3 linked regions of the Homo sapiens genome follow. The protein of the gene in region 1 interacts with the protein of each later gene in a pairwise test. Each region holds a gene or a part of one and is shown on either strand. Other genes may lie near its edges. The genes, in order: TXLNB, DTNB and CAGE1.

What was found.
Region 2: the proteins of TXLNB (region 1) and DTNB interact in a two-hybrid assay, tested with the Homo sapiens proteins (one large-scale study listed by IntAct).
Region 3: the proteins of TXLNB (region 1) and CAGE1 interact in binary tests that used the Homo sapiens proteins (3 or more experiments, as listed by UniProt).

What each region holds. Positions count from the first base shown.
Region 1 is NC_000006.12:139,239,895-139,243,554, forward strand, and holds the end of TXLNB (beta-taxilin), read right to left. Parts: intron 3,421-3,660; coding exon 2,632-3,420; 3' UTR 167-2,631; downstream 1-166. UniProt on the Homo sapiens protein: Promotes motor nerve regeneration. May be involved in intracellular vesicle traffic.
Region 2 is NC_000002.12:25,387,047-25,390,706, forward strand, and holds part of DTNB (dystrobrevin beta), read right to left. Parts: intron 1,316-3,660; coding exon 1,156-1,315; intron 333-1,155; coding exon 243-332; intron 106-242; coding exon of another isoform or gene 53-105; exon of another isoform or gene 1-52.
Region 3 is NC_000006.12:7,326,108-7,328,559, forward strand, and holds the end of CAGE1 (cancer-associated gene 1 protein), read right to left. Parts: intron 793-2,452; coding exon 751-792; 3' UTR 552-750; downstream 1-551.

The sequences.
Region 1 (3,660 bases):
CAATATCTTCAAAGTGTTGACTACACGTAATTCTATTTAGTGACCAAAAACTTAATAAACTACAGAATAAAACCATAATTTTCATTAGGTATTGTCGAAACATAGAAGTAATAAAAACAAAAATAAAATAAGTCAAAGTTAAAAAAATAAAATGAGTACTAGAGAATTTGGGAAGAGAAGTACCTTTTTAATAGATATATAAATTATAGTTATTTAACTTAGAAAACAATAACTTTAGTGTTTCTAGAAAGTAGATGGCATTTCTAAAAAATAGTTACATACACTTGATAAAGAACAGACATTCCTTCTGAATTTAGAACTTTATGAGTTATTGTTATAATTAGTAAGGCTAAATTTTAACACAAAGGACTATAATAAAACATTCTTTGAATATTAAAATAATTCCCCCAAAACCTATATTAAGCTTTACAAATTTCAGACAAGTCATTCCATCTGAAACTCTGTCCAAGATATACATGGCTGTGAGTAATGTGTTTCTGTGAAAGTCTTTTGGATGAAAATAATGAACTTTGGGTTTTAGAATATTTGATTTACTGCCTTTGGGTTCCTCTGCTGCCTGTTTCTCTTGCTAAATATTCAGACTGAGACTTTACTATGACTAATCTTACTCCATTCTTGGACGTTCTGCCTCTGCAGTGGGGAAGGAGACCCTCCTGGATTATGGTGAATATTTAGCTCTGAATCAAATGAATGTTTAAATCTCTAAGACTTGCAGTAATGTTGAATTTGGCTGGATACCCTGTGGTTATAATATTTTAAGCCTTTAAAAATATACAGATTCTCAAATAGCGACAAGCTTTTTTCCTGATTTTTTTTCCTGCCTAGCAACTTTGTTATTATCCTCACTGTCTACTTCAAACAAACTGTATGCAGTTTACAATTCTTGTAGCATATGGTTGCTGCCTACAAGCACTTTGTGTGCCTTGGCAAACAGCCACATGCAACATTGAAGAATGGTTTCCTGGATGAGTACTAGAGAATTTTGTTTCTATCCATTTTTCTACTTGAGTTCAACTTTCAAGATAGGGTTGGGTTAGACATTGTTTCTTTCTTCCCTTCTCCCTCCTTCCTTTCTTCCTTCCCTTTCCTCTCTCTCCCTCTCTTCTTTCCTGTTTCATTGTTGCAGCTATCCTTTACCCTAGGTAATTTATGTTGTCAGTATCATTAGAGGTTCTCATCAAGCAATGTTAATGTAATACTCATGTTGACAACCCCAAGTGTTTCTAGCTTTTGCCTTCTCCTGAATCCTCACCTATATTTCAAATCATTTTGGTTAAAATCCATTGGTTTTTTTGTTTTGTACTTCTGGCCTAAAGAGAAATCCTCATGGCAGAAAACGTGTTGGTTTGTAAGCCTCATCACTGATATTGAGACCCAGTGTAGATTTGTGTTTTGGAAAAACAATAGCTTTATTTAGCATTAATTGAGATGAGGGCTGGGTGTAATTTCCTGCTACAAAGGAGAAATTGGGAAGGAAGGAGCAGAAGCTTTTAGAATATAGAATGGGTCTGACAGCAAGAGATGAATATTATGTCTTGAGACATTGGTAGTGCAAGAGGCAGGGGATCAAAGCACAGCCCCTTCTTAGTGTGAGGTCCCTTAACCCCTCAATCCCTAGCTCCCCTTTCCCACTTCCAACCGTTTCCTTGCAGGAAGCCTGGAATGGGATGCCCTGGCACATGAGGGGGTGGCAAAGCAATGGGCTGAGAAGTGTAGGAGAAGCAGCTCCAAGAGGTGAGCTTGTGTTTCTCTTTTCTGTTTTGGGCCCCTTGTGGTCATCTTTGTGTCCATGCTGTCTGCACAGATTGTAGTCTAACTGCTTTTCTGCCATTTGATCAACTGGTTGAATTCATTTATCTACCATTGGGTTACTTATTTTTGCCCAACATAATGATAGCCTAAATACTTATAGTCCGAACTCTCTTCGGATTTATAGAGCATTAGTCAACCATAGTCTCAAGTGCAAGTAAGAGATCATTTTTTTGATTAGCATCTAAATATTCTGCATTGAGAAAAATGCATTAAGGGGTGAGAGAAATGTATGTGTAATAATGCATTTATATATACATATAGATACGTGCATATATGTATATAAACAAATATTCACACATCTATACATACGTGTATATATACATATAATAAGTACACACGTATGTATATATTATGTATATGTATAGTTTAAATGTAACCTGGGCATCCATAAATTACTATGGAACTTGTTAAACTATATATCCAAATAAGCAGAACATCACATTTTCAGTATTTATATATTGCAGTGGAAGTCTTTAAACATCAAATCTTACTGGTGATTAACAAATTTAAGTATTATCTTAACAGAAAAGGAATATAAATTTGCTATCTGTATGTTTTGTTGCCCTTTGGGAAAATTATACTGTCAACCAGTGTTAAATAGAAAACCTTCAAATCAGCTATAAATTGACAACAAATAGCAAAGTCTGAATGAATGTGTTCTGCCTAACATTAAAAAATGTCTTGATCCTAAGTCTCTTCCATTTGACATCTCTAGCCCTTAATGCCTTTTTCGGAAGACAAGCTGTTATGCTGAATATGCAAAGAGGCAGGAAGAAGCCTCTGAAGGCACGGTGAGGCTTAGTCGACGCCTTCCAGATTGGTGTCAGCCACGTTGCGCGGCTGGGGCCCAGCTGAGGCCCCTACTGGCAGCTCCTCTGCTGCTGCTCGTGGGGGCTGCCTACTGGGCTCGCATGCAGGCACCATGGCTGCAACGTGCTCTTCTGCTGCGCATGCTGGAGCAGGCACATCTGCCTCCATCTTCTGTAGGGAGGCCTCGGTGGGAGCCTGTGGGGCCTGACCGGAAGCTTCTGCCTCTGGCTTCCAGGACGCCTGATCAGCCTGTGCTCCAACAGGGAGACCCTCGCATTGGGTTTCTGCTCCCAACCCGGCAGGAGAATTACTGGCCTTGGAGGGAGGTTCAGCATCACTGCCTCCTTCGGCTTCAGCCTGAGGAGTTAGGGGAGGCAGGGGACTCTCTGAATCCCGTGAAGGGATCAGAGGGGGTTGCTCTGGCTCCTTGAGAGCGGCGTCAGCACTCTCCTGAGAACTGCCTATTTCGGGTTGGGTTTCTTTGGACTGGTGCGGGGTTGACTCTGGATGATGAATTATCATGAAGGCTGTGGCCAGATTTTTCACGGCGGTTTGGACACTATTAACCTCCTCTGCGTCAATCTCTTGATCCACAGAGACGTTTGACTCTGGCTCTTCATCGGAGTTGTGCTGACTTTGGTCATCCTTTTCAGATATTTCTGCGTCTCTGATTTTTTTGTGGAGTTCGTTTCTCTCTTCTTGTAAAGCACGGCAGAGGTTCTCTAGCCTCCCGATTTTCATCACAAAGCACTCATATTCTTTAGCTCTCAGTGCTTTCTGTGATGTGAAAACACACGCACATACACACACAGATGAAATGACATGATAAGCAAAATGTCCAGGATGCTTTCTGGAAACAAGCAAAACTATTTGTCCCAGAATTTGTCTACTAGGCTCTGGGACCTGGCTACAGAGTAGGGGCTGAACAGATGCTTGGTCATGGACATCACTTTCCTTTTTTTTTTTTTTTTTTGGCATTGTGTACTAGACTGGTAGATTCTTTAATCACCATACCCT
Region 2 (3,660 bases), on another chromosome or scaffold:
AGCTTGCTCCACAAGATGCACTCCTGAGATAGGCCTGAATGTGAAACCGCCCCTACGCGATCCTGTGTGACAGAGGCTCTCTGGGTGGAGACATCCAGTGTGTTCCTAGAAGGCAAAGTTAGGTGATGAAATGGGGTGGTGCAAGCTGGGTGGTGAGGTTCTGCCGGTGCTGGCAAGGAAGTGAGAAGGGCGCGGGCAAGGCAGGGGAGGCCAGGAAGCTGGCTGGGAGCTCTGGGTTTCACCTGAATGGAGCTCCTTCACCAGGGATGACATGGTGTTGGTGATGGAGTCAGCTGCCACCAGCAGGTCATTGCGGAGGTTTCTCCTCGTACCTGAGGAGAGGCAGAGCAGATGGGGATGCCAGGGTGGGTGAGCGTGGAGAAGAGACGGCTGAGCAAATGCCTCAGTTCTGCCAGGCCCGAGAACACAGGTGTGGAACACCTAAGGGGAGATGGGGCCACAGCAGCTCCACCCATTCCCAGGCACACCGGGGGCAGGAGGCACCAGCCCACTGGTCCCTCTCCCTCTGCCCTCTCTACCTAGGGAGCAGCATCCTGTCAACTCCACGCTTTGCCGCCACCACACAATCCAGAGCTGGGTTCCAGAATAAGCATTCCACCGAGGTCTTCCTCAGCCTTGTGGGGGTGGGGCTGTACTCTCCACAACCACCACTACCACCTCCCCTTCTCACCTCCAGCCCCAGCAGGACTTCCCTCTGAATCCCCACCCAACTACTTAATACTGCTGGTCACCAGCTCCCCCGATGACTGTGACAATGGCGTGCATACTGTGCTTTCAGCACGGTCCCAGTTACAGTGCCTGTTACAGTCCCTTCTAGGCCAGGGAATTATTCCATCCAATTCCTCTGGAGGAGACAAAGCCCAAAGGACAAAGCACTTCCAATAATCCAGAAAAAAGGGCAGAGAACCCCAGGAGGCCTGTTCTTGGCACACATAGGAAGCCTGCAGCCCTCCCGCTGGAGACCAGCCCGTCTCATGAGAAGGGGCCAGCACCTGACTTATTTACACTGTCTGTCAAAATCTGATCATTCCAAGCAAAGAGCACAAAACAGAAATGGAAAAAACCTCAGCAGGAATCTTGTCCGTGTTTGCACATCCCTTCAGCTCCCCGCTGAACTCTGCTCCAGAAACTCACCTTGTGCGAAGGCCTCCTGCACGTCTCCCCCGACTCCGCTCAGCGAGTCCTGCGGACAGTGGGTGGGGGTGGAGCCGGCAGACGTGGAGCGCACTGGCATGGGCATTGGCCGGCCGCCTCCATGGGTGGGCGATGTATGTGGTGACCCTGTGGCCTGAGCCTGGAGATTCAAAGACAGAAAATACGTTATCTCAAGTACCTGACCTCTTTGAGGAAGGAAGAAAGTACTTTTTCTCCATCAACCAGAGCCAGCCAGTGGGCCTCAGTTCAGTGGTACAAGATCATACTTGAAAGGAAGGAGTTAGGCTGCTTCCAAGACTGGAGAGAGGAAGAAAAGGAAAAAAGGAAGGGGGCGTGCAGGGCAGAGAGAGAGAACATCCTAAGAACAAGACCAAGAATGGGAGGGAAAGAAGAGGCTGGCACAGAGTGGTGGAGACAGAGTGAGCTGCGTGACTGGGCCAGGGCTCTAGAAGGGCTTGGCTTGCAGGGCAGGAAGTAACATGCAAACAGCTTTCATTTTGTTTGCAAACACATTCATGTACATGTTCTCATTTGGACCCCTCCCCCCGCTGCTGCCGGCAACCTGTGAGTGGAAAGGACATACGTGTGTGTGTGTGTGTGTGTGTGTGTATGTATATATTTATATACGTATATATCTTTTTTGGAGACAGAGTCTTGCTTTGTTGCCCAGGTGGAGTGCAGTGGCACGATCTCAGCTCACTGTAACCTCCGCCTCCCAGGTTCAAGAGATTCTCCTGCTTCAGCCTCCCGAGTAGCTGGGACTACAGGTGTGCGCCACCACGCTGGGCTAATTTTTTGTATTTTTAGTAGATACGGGGTTTCAACACGTTGTCCAGGTTGGTCTTTAACTCCTGAGCTCATGCAATCTGCTCGCCTTCGCCTCCCAAAGTGCTAGGATTACAGGTGTGAGCCACCATACCAAGCCAGGGTATATATTTTTATGTCCATTTTATAGAAGAAGAAGAATGGAAAGAGACGTTGTGTCAGGCCACACAGCTTGCCAGTGGGAGGCATGGGAACAACCCCTTGACTCCAAGGGTGGCAGTGTGCACTCTGCAGGTTGTGACCCCACTTCCTGCAGGGCATGCTCTGAGCATGTGCGGAGCTCGGCTGCAGGCTGCAAGCGGGGCCATGGGGCCAGTCATGCCACATGCACTGCACATGTACAGCAAGGCTGTCCGGGGCCACCCCGCGGGGACGAGGTGAGAAAGGACACATGGTAAACAGAAACCAAGCTTTCCTTGGGAGGCCCTGGTATAGTTGTGGAGAAAGTTTGGAGCAATGGGATAAAATAAATAAAAGGAGAAAACTAATCAAGGGCCGCTCACTGAGATGTGGGCTCTGTAGCTCTTCAGCACAACGGGAACTGAGTGTGGAAGGTGGACTAGGGTTTTCTGTGGAAGCAAAACTGGAAAAAATAGAAGCCAAAGTGTGAGAGTGAATTCAAATGAAGACAGTTATCCTTCTTCTAGCTTTCTCAGCTAGAAACCCCATATACAAACAGAATTGGCCCTGAACAGGTGGACAGGCTGGACGCACGACACCCCACCGCAGTGCTTCAACCGTGTGGCCACCAAACTCAACAGAAATGGATTGTTTTCTGTGGTTCTTACTTTGAATCATTTGTGTGTGTGTGTGTGTGTGTGTGTGTGTGTGTGTGTATGTGTATTTTGAGAAGTTAAAAAAAATACAGAAAACTAAAAAGTACAACATAATTAACCACCCCAAATTGGTAACTTCATATTGTGTCAAATGTATTTCAACCTAAAAATATTGCAGAAAAATTTGCAATATTTTTGTCCACCAGTTCTTTCCTGTTCCAGTTCTTTCCTCTCCTCCCTTCAGAGGCAACCCCTATCAAAATTCTGCTGTGAAACTTTTAACCTATATGTGCATGTATAGCTATGAATAATAGATGGTATTTCACGCTTTTAAATTTTGCATGAATGGTATTGTACTGCTCATATCACTTTGCAATTTGCTTTAATCACTTAGCATGCTTTCTGAGATCTTTCCATGATACAAATAAATATGAACTAAATCAAAATGGATCATAGTAACTATAAGAGCTAAAACTAAAATGGATCATAGTAACTATAAGGGCTAAAACTATAAAATTTCTCTAAGAAAACACCCAAACCATGATATGTAAAAACAAAACCAAACAGATAAACTGGCTTTCATTGAAATTTTAAACTTTTTCTTTTCTTTTTCTTTTCGTCTTCTCTTTTTTTTTTTTGAGATGGAGTTTCACTCTTTCACCCAGGCTGGAGTGAAGTGGTGCGATTTTGGCTCAGTGCAACCTCCGTCCCCTGGGTTCAACCAATTCTCCTGCCTCAGCCTCCAAAGTAGATGGGATTACAGGTGCGTGTGTGCCACCATGCCTGGCTTTTCTTATATTTTTAGTAGAGATGGGGTTTCGCCATCTTGGCCAGGCTGGCTTCAAACTCCTGACCTCAGGTGATCCACCCGCCTCGGCCTCCC
Region 3 (2,452 bases), about 130 Mb from region 1:
GCCCAGGCTCTTTATTTATTTATTTATTTTATTTGAGACAGAGTCTTGCTCTGTCGCCCAGGCTGGAGTGCAGTGGCACGATCTGGGCTCACTGCAAGCTCCGCCTCCCGGGTTCACACCATTCTCCTGCCTCAGCCTCCCGAGTAGCTGGGACTACAGGTGCCCCCGCCACCACACCTGGCTAAGTTTTTGTATTTTTAGTAGAGACGGGGTTTCACCATGTTAGCCAGGATGGTCTCGATCTCCTGACCTCATGATCCACCCGCCTCGGCCTCCCAAACTGCTGGGATTACAGGCATGAGCCACCGCGCCTGGCCACCCAGGCTCTTTTATCTGCGTTATAATTCCAAAGGATTTCAGAGTTGGTGTCTTTTAAAATTTGGTTGGTATTATGAAGAATCTGCCTGCCTGGACAGAAAAAGGATGTCCTGCAGAGGAAATAAAAAGTTGAAGTGAAATCCATGACTATTTTTGTGCATCATTAAAGGCCTGATAATATGGGAGTGGTATTCTGTGAGAATATTTGGTCAAAAAACCACTGTATTCTTCTGTTTATGTTAAATAGAATATATTTGATTATTCACAGGAAGAAATTAGAAGAAAAGTAATCACATCTTTGGAATGTAAGACTTTACCCTTTATACAGATTTTAATATATCATCTGCATGGATTGATTTGGCTAGCATATGTAGTAATGACTCTTCCTGGAGTGGTTGACAAAAATGATTACTGTTTAATCTTCAGGCTTGTTTAATCTAAATCATTTCTATTTTCTTTAAAAAGAGCTGGCATCTAAAAATGAAAGGAAAAATGTTTCGTAAGTTTTGGGGAAAGACTAACATTCAGTGACAGAACCCCTAAACAGCCAATTTTTTATTACATATGGAAAAGGGGTGCAAAGTAAGCCTATAGATAGATGAATTCCACAGATAATACCAACACTATATTTTGTTTGTTTGTTTTGAGACAGAGTCTCACTCTGTTACCCAGGCTGCAGTGCAGTGGTACAATCTCGGCTCACTGCAAGCTCTGCCTCCCAGGTTCAAGCGATTCTCCTGCCTCTGCCTCCCAAGTAGCTGGGATTATAGACACTCAACACCATGCCCGGCTATTTTTTGTATTTTCAGTAGAGACGGGGTTTCACCATGATGGCCAGGCTAGTCTCGAACCCCTGACCTCAAGTGATCTGTCCACCTCAGCCTCCCAAAGTGCTAGGATTATATTTTTGATAGAGATGGGGTTTTGCCATGTTGTCCAGGCTGGTCTCGAACTCCTGACCTCAAGTGATCCACCTGCCTCAGCTGTGAGCTCAGGTGTGAGCCACCACACCTGGCCCCCAACACTATATTTTAACTGATATTTTTGTTTGTTTGTTTCAACCTTTTTCCCACTAAGGAACACCATGAAGAACAATGTGGATTGAGTTTCATCTTCCTTGGTTTGGTTGGCAATTGACAGATGTAGAAAAAGGAATAGAAGCAAGAATCTGAATAATCCAAAAGTGATTTAGCAGCATGGCATAGTTAAAAATTGATAGTATTGGCTGAGCGCGGTGGCTCACGCCTGTAATCCCAGCACTTTGGGAGGCTGAGGCAGGCGGACCACCTGAGGTCAGGAGTTTGAGACCAGCCTGACCAACATGGAGAAACCCCGTCTCTACTAAAAATACAAAATTAGCTAGGCGTGGTGGTACCTGCCTGTAACCCCAGCTACTCGGGAGGCTGAGGCAGGAGAATCACTTGAACCCCGGAAGTGGAGGTTGCAGTGAGCCGAGATTGCGCCATTGCACTCCAGCCTGGGCAACAAGAGTGAAACTCCGTCTAAAAAATAAATAAATAAATAAATAAATAAATAACCATTGACAGTATTAAGGCACCCTCTTAGTTCAACTATGAGAAAAGCTGGGTCTCAATGGCAGCATATGGAGGCATGCCCTATTGAGTGTCCCCTCATCCCCAAAGCTATGTTACAAATAGGCCACGGCATTTATGAACATACCCATGTCCTGGAATGGGACAGAGGTGGCAGCAGCTGTGTCTGCTGTTTGGGATCACTCCAGCAAGTGTAGCATTGGTCCTGGGTCCCAAGTCTAACATTCACTCCTATTTAGTACCTTTTATGAGATAGGTACTTGAGGATATCAAAATGAATATGAGACAATTCCTGTACTCAAAGAGTTCTAGTCAAGTCAAAGGACATGCAAGCAGAGAACTGTAATGCTGTGTCATAGGTGCTATTACGTCAAAGGGTATAGTGTGAGCACATGGGAGGAAGCAAGTCAGTTCCATTTGGGAGACAGAGCAGGAAAAGCTTCAGAGAGGAGGCAGAGCTTGAGCTGACAGGCGTTTGTGAGGTGGGAACTGAGTAACTGAGAGAAAGAGTTGGGGAAGAACATACCAAGTAGGAGAAGCTGCATGAGCAATAACAGGAAAGCACAGAAATGACATACCAT